Homo sapiens: one gene and its partner. The protein of the gene in region 2 purifies or fractionates together with the protein of the main gene of each other region. This does not show direct contact. Each region holds a gene or a part of one and is shown on either strand. Other genes may lie near its edges. The genes, in order: MGA and CHN2.

The links.
Region 1: the proteins of CHN2 (region 2) and MGA purify together in Homo sapiens (affinity purification with mass spectrometry, with the first as the bait; one large-scale study listed by BioGRID). This does not show direct contact.

The regions. Positions count from the first base shown.
Region 1 is NC_000015.10:41,666,634-41,670,458, forward strand, and holds part of MGA (MAX gene-associated protein), read left to right. Parts: intron 1-2,194; 5' UTR 2,195-2,261; coding exon 2,262-3,325; intron 3,326-3,825. UniProt on the Homo sapiens protein: Functions as a dual-specificity transcription factor, regulating the expression of both MAX-network and T-box family target genes. Functions as a repressor or an activator.
Region 2 is NC_000007.14:29,509,213-29,513,037, reverse strand, and holds part of CHN2 (beta-chimaerin), read right to left. Parts: intron 3,738-3,825; coding exon 3,632-3,737; intron 2,854-3,631; exon of another isoform or gene 475-2,853; coding exon 303-474; 3' UTR 1-302.

The DNA of each region.
Region 1 (3,825 bases), on a different chromosome or scaffold from region 2:
TTCTGAACATTTTACGCTTAATATATCTTGTAGATACTTTTTGCATGCATTCATTAAGCTTATACATTCTCTTTTGTGACTGTTAACATTCCACTCTATGGATGTGTCATCATTTGTTTTACCATTTTAAGGACTTCTCTCTTCCTGTCTAGTCTTTTGCTGTTATAAGTGGGAATGCAGGGGATAATCTTGTATAGATATCATTTATCACAGGTGTGTGTATTTAAAATAAAGTCCTATAGTGGGTTTTAACAGTGAATTAAGAAAACTTAAAGTCCTGGGAACAATTCTTTGTCATAGGATGATATATGGATTTGTACTTTTGATATTTTCAAGTTGCCCTCTCTTAGAGATTCTATTATTTTATACTCCCAGTAACTGCTTAGGGGAGAATGCTGGTTGACCTAACCCTTTCCAGCACTACCAGGCTTTGATTTTTGCCAGTCTGATAAGTAAAAAAACAGTATCTCAAGATGACTTTAATTTGCTTTCCTCTTAACTATGTACATATTCATAGCCATTTGCGTTTATTATCCTTTACTCATTTTTCTGTTAGGTATTTGGTCTTGTTGATTTGTAGGAAGCCTTTAAAAATTATTATTACTGTTAATGTATTTTTATTTTTTTTTTTGAGTCAGAGTCTCGCTCTGTCACCCAGGCTGAAGTGCAGTGGTGCCATCTTGGCTCGCTGCAACTCCACCTCCTGGGTTCAAGCAATTCTCTTGTCTTAGCCTCCCGAGTACCTGGGATTATGGGCGCACACCACCATGCCTAGCTAATTTTTTTATTTTTAGTAGAGACAGGGTTTCACCATGTTGGCCAGGCTGGTCTTGAGCTCCTGACCTCAAGTGATCTGACCTCCTTGGCCTCCCAGAGTGCTTGGATTACAGGCGTGAGCCACTGCTCCCCCGCCGCTATTATTTTTTAATAGAGACGGACTTTCACTACGTTGGACAGGCTGGTCTGGGACTCCTGACTTCAAGCAATCCTCCTGCCTTGGCCTCCCAAAGTGCTGGGATTATAGGTGTGAGTCACCATGTCCAGCCCCCTTTTTATATTAGGGAAAGGAGTTCTTTATAAGTTGCAAATACCTTTTCCTGGTTAGTTTGCTTTTTGATTTTGCTTAAATGATTTTGCCAGATTAAAAAATTTACAGAATATTAAATTTTATTTTATTTTTATTTCTTTGAGACGGAGTCTTTCCCTGTCACCCAGGCTGGAGTGCAGTGGCGTGATCTTGGCTCAGTGCACCTTCTGCCTCCTAGGATCAAGTGATTCTCATGCCTCAGCCTCCTGAGTAGCTGGGACTACAGGCGTGCACCACCACACCAGGCTAATTTTTTAATTTTTAATAGAGATGGGGTTTCGCCATGTTGGCCAGGCTAGTCTCGAATTCCTGGCTTTAAATGATCCACTGGCCTCAGCCTCTCAAAGTGCTGGGATTGCAGGTGTGAGCCACCACACCTGGCATCATATAGTATTAAATTTATCACTTTTTTTTTTTTTGGCCTTACTGGTTTTAGATTTTGTGTCTTATCAAAAAACTTTTCTCAGGATTTAGGAATAAAAAAATTAAATATTAGAGTCATCTGGAATTTATTTCAGTGTAAGGTCCATTGAGTTCCAGTGATTTGTCATGGCTTCTTTAAACGTGTGTACTAAGAAGTTAGATAGCTTTTTACTTATTTATGGAACCATGTCTTCTGAACCATATGAAGAACTAATTCTGTACAATTAGCTCTTTGGGATGAAAATGGAACTTTACTTATTTAATTTACTCATCACTGGGGAACTTGCTATATAAAGGAATCTTCTGGTAAATTCATAAAGTGTTAGGATGCTTTAAAAATGCATAACCTTCAAATTTAACTTTTTAATTTTGTATACTTTTTTAATAATGAATATACTCTTTTGTTTCTTTGTGTGAGATTATAGTATTTATAGTGAATTGTTAGAGGATTAGGATATAAGCACCTTAACTAATTAGATTAAAATGAACTTTAAAAAATGATTAGATATTCCAGAGTAAATATTCTTACTGTGATTGAAAGAAAAGCTTAGAAGCAAAGTCTTAGAAGAATTTAGGAATATTTTGGGGATAACATAATCGTTCTTGTATTTTTGTTCAAGAAATAAATACTCACTTGATTAAAGGGTGTTTTTTGTTTTTGGTTTTTTTTTGCTTGTTTCTTAGGATGGGAAGGCCATTGTGACTATGTGGTGATTACAGTTGTCTTACTACTGAGTTTCCTACTGAAATCATGGAGGAGAAACAGCAGATTATATTGGCTAATCAAGATGGTGGAACAGTGGCAGGAGCAGCACCTACCTTCTTTGTCATCTTAAAGCAGCCAGGAAATGGCAAAACTGATCAAGGAATTTTGGTTACTAATCAGGATGCCTGTGCTTTGGCTAGTAGTGTGTCATCACCAGTAAAATCTAAAGGGAAGATTTGCCTTCCAGCTGATTGTACTGTGGGTGGAATCACTGTTACCCTCGATAACAATAGTATGTGGAATGAGTTCTATCATCGAAGCACAGAGATGATTCTGACCAAGCAAGGAAGACGCATGTTTCCTTACTGTCGTTATTGGATAACAGGTTTAGATTCAAATTTGAAGTATATTCTTGTCATGGATATATCTCCTGTGGATAACCATCGTTATAAGTGGAATGGTCGTTGGTGGGAACCTAGTGGGAAGGCTGAACCTCATGTTTTGGGGAGGGTTTTCATTCATCCAGAATCTCCTTCCACAGGTCATTATTGGATGCATCAACCAGTATCTTTCTATAAACTCAAACTTACCAACAATACACTGGACCAAGAAGGGCATATCATCTTGCACTCTATGCATCGTTACCTGCCGAGGCTTCATTTGGTGCCTGCAGAAAAGGCTGTGGAGGTGATACAATTAAATGGCCCTGGTGTCCACACTTTTACCTTCCCACAGACTGAATTCTTTGCAGTAACAGCTTATCAGAACATTCAGATTACTCAGCTGAAAATAGATTACAATCCATTTGCCAAAGGCTTTCGGGATGATGGGCTGAATAATAAGCCCCAGAGAGATGGAAAACAAAAGAACAGCTCTGACCAAGAAGGGAATAATATTTCCAGTTCTTCTGGTCATCGGGTCCGTCTTACAGAAGGTCAGGGGTCAGAGATACAACCAGGTGATTTGGATCCTTTGTCAAGGGGTCATGAAACATCAGGCAAGGGTTTGGAGAAGACTTCCCTTAATATAAAACGAGACTTTCTTGGTTTCATGGATACTGATTCAGCACTTAGTGAAGTTCCTCAATTGAAGCAAGAGATTTCTGAATGGTAAGTAGTAGTTTTTCTGTTCTTAGAAATAAAAGGAAGATTGAGATGGGCCAGGTGTTGGATTTAACATCTTGGTTCTGTGGAATGCTACAGATGTTGATAAATGTAAGCCACTATAAAATATACTACAACTGCTTTTACATTCTGTGAAGTGACATCATTTTTCTGTAATGAGAATCAGTTGGGTTCAGGATCTAGAATTGTAGGCAAATTGGATAACTTATCAGAATTATTCATATGTATTTAGAATGTTCCTTGATATCCTTGGGGGATTGGTTCCAGGACCACCCAAGAATACCAACACCTGACTACATTTGAGACTCCATCTCAATAAAAAAAAGAAAATCATACCAATTATGACAACATAGATGAGCCTAGAGAATACTATGCTAAGTGAAATAGGCAAAACAAAAAAAGACAAATACTGCAAAATATTCATAAAAGTAGAAAGTAGAATGGTGGATGCCAGGGGGTAGAGAGAGACTGAAAGATGTTGGTCA
Region 2 (3,825 bases):
TAAAGGTCTACATTGTTTTTTAATAAATTAAAGATGTATTAATCACTCTTCCAGCAAACCAGACATACATAGGAGGCACAGCAAAAGACCCAAGGTGAGGGGCTTCCCTCACCTTCACCCTTGTTCTCACGTGGAGGTGGCGCATGTCTATGAGACACAGTACCCCACTCAGCGATCCTCTGCAGTCCAGGAAATTCTAGCACTTGCTTGGAAAACAAATCAAGTGGTAAGAAATGTTTTTATTCCTTTAGCTGTGTCAACTTGGATGGTGCTGGGGCCATTCAGCTCATTTCCCTGATGGATTAGAATAAAACGTCTTCGTTTTCTATTAAAATCTGCACAATCAGCTTTTGGTACCGCATATCATGCAGGGTGGTCAGGGTGCTGTCCTCAGGGGGCCTCATCAGAGTGGGCCCAAACACGATCCCCAGATTTTCTGCATTCATGAAATTGTCTTTTTCATTCATAGTAACCCTGCAAAACAAACATATAGAACAGAGACATTATGGAGACTTGAGGATTGATTTTATGTATTGATTATGTATGTAAGTCCCGATAACATCTCTGGTTCAGGAAATTGCAAGAAAAAGATTGGGAATCAGAACAGCAGAAAGGTATTTTTGGAAGGGTAATTTACTGATTTTTCGTTTTAAATTGTTGACATTGCCTTCGCCGGTGGAAATGAATTACTTATGTGAATCTGGCAGGAACACAATTTTTAAAATTAGAAAATTAGTCCTCCTTATTAAGTAAATGTGGAACTATCATTTGAGGAATACTGGTTTGTAGGGGCAGCAGATTCTGAGGCTGGCCCATGGTCCTTTCATAGGCCTTATACAGAAGGCGTTTTTTTTTTCCCTCTTGTGGCTTCCTGCTGGTCTGTATGCTGGAGAGTGGGAAGGGAAGGGCAGGATCCCTCTCTGCTGGGAGGACCGGTGCCAGAGGAGAAAGGTTATGTGTAGAATGGGCTGTCATGAATTGAGGAAGAGTCAGGCCGTTATCGTGGGGTGGGGGAACGGCTGGAATGTCGCCAGACTGGACGGCAGTTGGACATTATTTCTAGTTCCCACAGGATGAGGTCTACAGCAGTTGAAATTAAAAATCATTTCGACATCCAGGTAAGAACTGCAGAGCCTTTAAGAATAAAATTCAAACTGCAAAGCTGGTTTAACACCTTCCTCATGGAATAAAATTACAATCTATCTATCTCCCAGAGTTTTGTTTTCACAACTTTAAGTTTTAGAATGTTCATAATAGATGTAAAAGGGAATGGGTTCTCCAAAAATGAGCAAAATATAATTAAAATGTGTTTAGGAAAATATAATTAAAATGTGTTTAGGTTGTGCATAAAAAGCCATCCCTTTCTATTTCCTTATAACTCATTAGGATTAGCCATTGAGTATTATTTTAAGGTCAACCCAGTTTGTGTCATGTACATGCCACAAAGCCTAAGAAGAAGGTTGGAAAGAGGACGTTTCTCACCATCAAAGTGCCCACAGTTTCCTCTTAAGTCAGGCACTATGCCTGACTAAACAAGATGGCTGGCAAACCCACTATGATAAAGATACAGTATTATTGGCATTTAAGGTTCAGCTGAAAGGTGTCAGCATTTTTCTGGTAGTGGTACTTTGCCTTCCAAACTGTAACAACTGGATATTGATCACAATAAGTATTTTACAGCTAATTGAAAGCCAGATGTGATACCCATAGTTTATTATCTAAAAATTACTTGCACTCCTAAATTCAGTAAATTAATCAGAATGGGAATATTCTGAGCTAAATGTTACCATCACCCTGAATCTGAGCAACAATATTGTATGTCTTCTTGTATGTCTTATAAGGTAGAAAAATAAAAATCTCAATACCTACTGTTTATACAGTCCTCCGTTTGCTTCTTTTCACATACTAAGTAGATCTGTAAACTGGTCAATGTAGACAATTTTCGGTTCATTTTATTTTTATCAAAGAATGGGCTGCTGCCAAGTATCTTTCAAAAACACAGAGGCACACAGATGTGCCCTGATCCCTCCAATGTTATAACACCAATTCATCGACCTCATTACACATGTGCAGTGAAAGAGAGAGACACAAGGTTTAGGGAGAATAGTGTCACCAGAGGTTCTAGTGTCCCATAAACATCCAGACGTCTCCATCTCTGTCTCCCACACACTCACGCAGACAGCTGTGTGTGTGGCAGGTACTCTCTGAGATGGACCTCAGCGATCCATGCCTCCTGGAATTCATACCCTGCATCCCTTCCCCTAAAGTATGGGATGGACTTGATTTGCTTCTAACAGATAAAACACGGTAAAAGCAATAGGATGTCACTTCTGAGATTAGCTTACAAAAAGACTGTCTCTCATATTGGGTGCTCTTGCTTTTTTGTTCTGAGAGAAGCCTGTTGGCTTTTTGTGAGCTGCCTATGGAGAAATGCACATGGCAAGGAACTGAGGGTTGCCTCCAGCAAACTGCTGGTGAGGGAGTGAGGCCTTCAGTCCAACAGCCTTTAAGGAACTGAATCCTGCCAACAACCATGTGAGTGGGCTTGGAGATGGATGCTACCACCATCAAGCCTTCAGGAGTGAATTTTTTTGTTCTTGAGACAGCGTCTCATTCTGTTGCCCAGGATGGAGTACAGTGGTGCCATCTTCGCTCACTGCAGCCTTCGTCTCCCGGGTTCAAGCAATTCTCCTGTCTCAGCCTCCCAAGTAGCTGGGATTACAGACCCATCAAGCCTTCAGATAAGACTGCAGCCTCATTACAGACCTTGAACTGGAGGCAGCCAGCTGAGTCACACCTGGATTCCTGACCCTTAGAAACTATGAGATAATAAATGTTTACAGTTTTAAGCCACTAAGTTTCGGGAGCAATTTGTTACTCAATGAGAGAGAACTCACACATCCAGAAAAATAAGAGACCAGGCTGGGAATGTGCTCTCCCAGGAGGCAGGCAGTCTCAGGAGCCTGGAAAGGGGCAAGCAACAGGGGGATGAACAGGACACAGAGTACAGGGCTTGTGTCAGATGAAGATGCAGACACGGAGGCAGAGTAGTTAAAGGCTGTACATCAGCCTGCCTGGGATCCTGCCTTCACCTCTTCAAATCAGCTGTGTAACCTCCCCAGGCATCAGCAATCTCACAAGTGACACAAGGCCCCTAATGGCACCCCTTTCTTTTTCTTTTTTTTTTTTTTTTGAGATGGAGTCTCGCTCTGTTGCCCAGGCTGGAGTGCAGTGGCACGATCTCGGCTCACTGCCAGCTCTGCCTCCTGGGTTCACACCATTCTCCTGCCTCAGCCTCCCAAGTGGCTGGGACTACAGGCGGCTGCCACCACGCCCGGCTAATTTTTTTGTATTTTTAGTAGAGACAGGGTTTCACCGTGTTAGCCAGGATGGTCTCAATCTCCTGACCTCATGATCCGCCCACCTCGGCCTCCCAAAGTGCTGGGATTACAGGCGTGAGCCATCACAGTGGCGCCCCTTTCATAGGGATGATACACTGAAAGTGCCTGGAGTGGTTCCTGGCACAGTGAAACTCCAGCAGTTATGGCTGGGGAGGAATGCCGTCCACTTTTCCTCATGCATTAACCGCTCTAGGAGCAGAGCAGGCTTTGTGCACGAGACATGAGCTTACTTTTTGAGGTGGATCATTAGGTACCGGAGGGTTTCATAGTGGGCAGGAGGCAGCAGCATCAGCACTTCATGGACGGCTTCCAGCCTCTCATCTGCATTGGAGATTTCTGTGAAGTTCACGCATGATGGGTATTAGTTCAGAGTGTGGCATTCAAGTTTTCAGAGAAGTAACAAGAAGTTTTTGTTTTAGCCAGA